2 separate regions of the Homo sapiens genome follow, and region 1 is linked to region 2. The links come from fine-mapping of genetic effects on gene expression. Tissue or cell type: whole blood. Region 2 holds a variant in brackets; the other region holds the start of a gene. All regions are shown on one strand. Distances are from middle to middle.

Region 1 (2,625 bases), 340 kb after region 2:
AGGGTGATATAGTCAGAAGAGAACTGGACTTAGATCCAAGGAACTTACGTTGAAATCCAGTTCCTTAGCCATGTAACCACCAGAAAATCACTGAGTTTCAGCATCCTCAATTATAAAATGGCAATAATAATAATAATGTAATTATTGAGCGAGATCATGCCAAAGTGTCTAGGAGAGAGAATGAGACATGTATATGTGCAACAGACATGGTTATTGACTAAAACAGAGGAGAGAATGACTTGAGAGAATGCAATGAATCAGGGAAAAAAAGAAAGACAAGGCAAGGTGGAGAGGGAAAGTAGTCTGGCCAAGGAACAGATTCATGCTCATTAGAAAGCAGAAGTGATGGGACGAAGAAAATAGTGAGAGGAAAGCAATGCCCAGACATGTTGAAACACCAAGGGAACAAGAACAGAGGACTCACCTGCTAACACGCCATCTGGAGCTGCAAAAGTCCAGAGAGGATACATTAGTGTCCAGCAGTCTTCTTTATCTCCAGAGGACTAGAATCTGGGTGTGGGGATAAGATCTACATCCATGGAATTTTAAGGACCAACCGTCTTTTCAGGAATCAGAATCAGGGGAAGAAAGAGCTTCTTTCTCTCCTCTACCCTCATTTCCTTGGTAGGAAATTTGCACTCTGGAAGATGCCAGAGCAAATGCAAGGAACCAAGCTTTCAGTCTGGCTTCCTCCTTAGGTGTTGCTCAGCCCACTTGCCTCTGCTTTCTAGCTTGGCTCCACTACAGAGTCCCTGGGAAATGCCCAATAGTTTGCACATGTCCTAGAAAAAGTCACCACCCACAGTAAAGGTTCCTACCCCAGCTGCTCCCCAAATTCATTTGGGCCTCCCTGGGAGGGGTAATTGAATCTCTACTTACCGAAGAACAGTAAGGCTACACACAGTAGAGTAGGGGATTCCATGGCAGGAGCCATCTTCTTCATGGACTCCTGGTGCTTACTGTGCTGGAGAGATCTAAGGCTTCAAATATAGGCTTAAAACCAAAAAGCAGAAGGAAATGTTTTCTGTATCATATCTGGTTAACCCATCAGCTGTGCCTGGTTTTGCTTCTTTCTTTAGAGATAATATTCAGGATGGTGCCCAACTGGGCAATTTAATATTTACCCACTTACTCCACTCCCTATCCCACCTCCACATATACACCTGGAATCTGGTGAGAGAGAGGCATAGGTCTAGCACAATCACAAGCCTTTCTTAATCTGTCAATCTGTGTACAACTATTTAGTTTACAACTTAGAAAAGTGGGATGCAAGGGAGAGCAGAATAAAACAGCAGCAACTAATTACTGAATACCAAACATATGCCAGGTGTTATCCTAAATAAATCTGATATTTCATTTATTTTTCACAATAATCCTATAAAGTACATACTATCACTATCTACATTTTATAAACAGGAAAACTGAATCTTAGTGAGGTTAAGTAACTTGTTTTGGGGTGCCAACTATTAAATAACTAATTTGGGGTTCAAACACATAAAATCTAACCCCTAAGTCAAACTCTTAGTCATATGATGTACTGTTTATACATATTCAGGAGCATGGCTAGCAACTGCCAAATTCTTTTGGGATTCACCAGAGCTACCAACGCTTTTCTTGTTTAATTTCCTGCTGATCAGTTAGTGCATAAATCCACAAATTTTCATCTGATTCACTGATGATCCGCTGTCTGACCAGCGAAATTGGAAACATTTTCAGAGACTCCTCTTTCTCTACTGTGCCCTAATCTGGCTCAGAACACAGGAAGGCAGAAGTTAAACCATTACTTATGGGGATCTAGGCCATATAATTTATTTTATTTTACTTCCTAGCTTTTGTTTACTTTTAATATTATAATTTCCCAACATGATCTCCCTTTCTCCTTTAAATACACAGCAGGGGCTTTCTCCAGGATTCCTTTACTAATTCTTCTGTTTTTTTGCTCTAGGTCAAGGCTCAACCTTCTTCCAGGATCTGATATTAATGATAATACTGGAAATGAAAACTCTATTAATGTCTATAGTGGCTTGTCATTTGCAAAGATTGCTTTTAAATGAGTGTCCTATTTTATCTTTACCAAAACTCTGAAGAAGACAGGGACAGTATATTTAAACCCACTTCACATCTGAAGCACTTGAGGAACCATTCTATCATACCTTGCTCTTCCCCACAGACTGCTGAATTAAGTCTATTGAATGAAACCAGTCATTCCACATGAAGATCTAACCAAAACCTTTAGTTTTCTATGGAATTAGAAAATATAGGGCTAAAAAGGTTAATAAATAGGAATTTAAGTTTCAGATAAGAAAGATTAGGTACTGAGCCCAGGACATGCTATGTTTTAATGACAGACCTTAAAGGTAACAGCAAGTTATTTTGAAAAGTACAAGTTGTTTGTGTTTTAAGCTCTGAATTCAAATGTTCCTAATTTTTATGTGATTGAAGGTTACCTGTATAATAGGGACAATAATGGTATCCAGGTCATGGTTATATTATGAGATTTAATAAGATAAAAAAGAAGTAAAATGCATTGCACAGCATCTGACATGTGAAATATGGTCAATAAATACATTTTTTGTCTTCTTTATTATCATTATTTATTAAAGACTTATAGGAGAAATATGAATT
Region 2 (2,762 bases):
TAGTAACGAAATTTGGCTAAGTATCTAATAAACTAACATTTTCTAGTTTGCCTTTTGGAAATGGGACAGTTTGTCATTCTTGAGCAGATATAGAATGAACATTATCTGTGGCTGATGGCAATCAGATGAATGTACTCAGAAACTCTTGTTTAATAGTTTTGACCATTAAACAGTTTTAAATTATTTTATTCATAGTTGCATGCTATTTAATTTATACTCATAATGAACTGTTGATAAATACAAGAAACATAATGAAGCTTGATGTTGAAGTATAAGTTAATGACAATAATTCAGCAAATTCATCTCAAGATGATCTTACCAAATCTTTAAGTGGCATTCAGCTAATCAAAACTCTTATGTGGCACATTAAGCGTTCTCTGTATTAAGATAGAAAATTTGTCGTGATTGTATCTAACAATGTGTTACAAAGACCTACATTTGGGTTCTAAATCAAGCATAATATCAATTTTAAGAATTTATTTATAATATAGTCAGATACACACATGTAACTTAAAGCAAATTAAGTAGCATGTCACTTGTTAAATGTAAAAATGTCTTTTTATATTATAAATTATTAAAGATAGTGTGAAAATGAATCTTTGCATATTTAATAATATAGTGATCAAATTTTAAAACTTATTTATCGTATTTTATATACAAATTAAAAAACTTTAAAAATTTCTACAGCAGCCACAAATACACACAGGCACATACACACACACACACACACACACACACACACACACACACATCTCATTGCAAAAGCCTTTTATAAGTCCATAATAATTAGAAAATAATTTGGCCATTTCCCTCCATGGGCATCAGATTATTCCTCTCTTTCATTGTGAAATGTGTTCCTCTGTCAGAGGCACTATTATGTAGGATGCCACAATGATGCATAAGAAATTTAGTATAACCACCAAAGGTGGTGCTGACAGATATTTGATGAGCAGGGAAACAAATCTAAACCCGTAATATGTCTATTCTTGAGGACGAACTGCTACCCTATTCATGATAGAGAATAATGCCATTTTCTCTTTCTCCATGTCAGGAGTTTAGCATTAAGTAACCAAGTCAGATTTGGTGAGTGGAAGTCCATGCTAGTAAGTCCATGTATATCCTCCATCACGGCCTTTAATTTATTAGTTCATTTAGCAGTGAATGTGCTGGCCAGAAAAAGAGTTGGGATCAACAACAAAATAGTTCTCCTGATGCTCTGATTATTAAGCATCTCATCTTCAGTGAGGAATTTGTATGAGATGCTATGTTCAGATATTTTCAGGCTCTAGGCTCTTTATGAATGGGCCACTCTGAAATGACAGGTAAATGGGCTGCATGAATGCTTTTGCTTTATTTATTTTTTTGAGATGGAGTCTCGCTCTGTTACCCAGATTGGACTGCAGTGGCGTCATCTCGGCTCACTGCAACCTCTGCCTCCTGGGTTCAAGTGATTATCCTGCCTCAGCTTCCTGAGTAGCTGGGATTATAGGTGCACATGACCATGCCCGGCTAATTTTTTTGTATTTCTTTAGTAGAGATGGGGTTTCACTACGTTGGCCAGGCTGGTCTCGAACTCCTGACCTTGTGATCCGCCTGCCTTGGCCTCCCAAAGTGGTGATATTACAGGCGTGAGC[T/C]ATGGTGCCCAGCCCCCTTCTTTGTTTTTGTGCAACTTACTATGTAGGCCTTACTAAAACATGGAAAGTACTTGCTACTTCTTAATGAAACCATTCCTATAAACTTTATAAAATTAATCAGGGAAGAAGGCAAGGGGGCTAGTGAAAATAAACCAAGCTTGCAGCCCATTCATCAATAATCATTATGTGAGCTTGCTCTCTGACATGCTTCCTTATAGCTATTTGGTGCCTATTGTCCTAGAATCATGTAGACCTGTTACAAGATTATAGTTACTCTTAATTGCTCTATAACTAACAACTTGAATATTATGAATTGTTGTTTTTCCTTTGAGGTGTTCTTTCAGGTCCTGCTTATTAATGAAGCTACTGACATCATTTGGTCTGAAGGACCCCCTGGGGAGCTAACTCACCAAAGAATACAATTTCCACATACTGATTATTTCATGCCCCTTACCTCTACCAATCTATGACCCCAATTTTCCAGCCTCTTGCCTTCCATGATCCCCTTAAAAGGCACAGCCAAGAACTCCTCAGGGAGATGAATTTGAAGTCTCATCTCATCTCCTTGCTTGGCCACCCTGAACTTAAACTCTTTCTCTGCTGTAAATCCTGCTGTCTCAGTGTATTGGTATGTTACTGTGAAGCAGGCATATGAACCTATTGGCCCTGTAACATTGTTTCCAGGACCTATCTGCATGACACTGTCAGTGTAGTGGACTGGTGTGAGGTCTTGAGGGATGATTAAATGGTCAAGGCCCCTGTAGATTAAATTGTTGCCAAATGGTGTTACAAAATGTAATATTGGAGAATTGATGTGAGGACATCCTTGTGTACTGGGATATGTATAAGCCTGTGTATAGCAGATCTATTTAGAGCATCCCCCAAGCCAAGAATAACTCAAGTATCAAACAGTATACATGATAAATATATTGTGAAATACATGTATAAATTACAGCTATACACTACCAAAAAATATATGAATTTCAAAGACATAATGTTGAGCCAAATAAGCCAGGCACAGAATAACATATATAATATAATTTCATTCATAAAAGGCTAAACACACGCAAAACTACTAAAGTAGAAGTTTAACGTAAAATACATAATGTAGAACTTAAATTAGTTCCA

Evidence for each region. PIP is the estimated chance that this variant, and not a neighbour inherited with it, causes the effect.
Region 1: FCER1A starts here. The variant in region 2 is fine-mapped to the expression of FCER1A in whole blood (TOPMed, PIP 0.96).

Annotation. Positions count from the first base shown.
Region 1 is chr1:159,300,674-159,303,298 of GRCh38, reverse strand. FCER1A (Fc epsilon receptor Ia) reads right to left here and starts at 963. Exons shown (of 5, transcript NM_001387280.1): 1 at 880-963; 2 at 425-445. The coding sequence starts at 934.
Region 2 is chr1:159,643,644-159,646,405 of GRCh38, reverse strand. No RefSeq gene overlaps it. Among named protein-coding and RNA genes, the nearest start is that of APCS, 57 kb to the right of the region's middle. The variant T/C (reference allele first, on the strand shown) is at 1,635.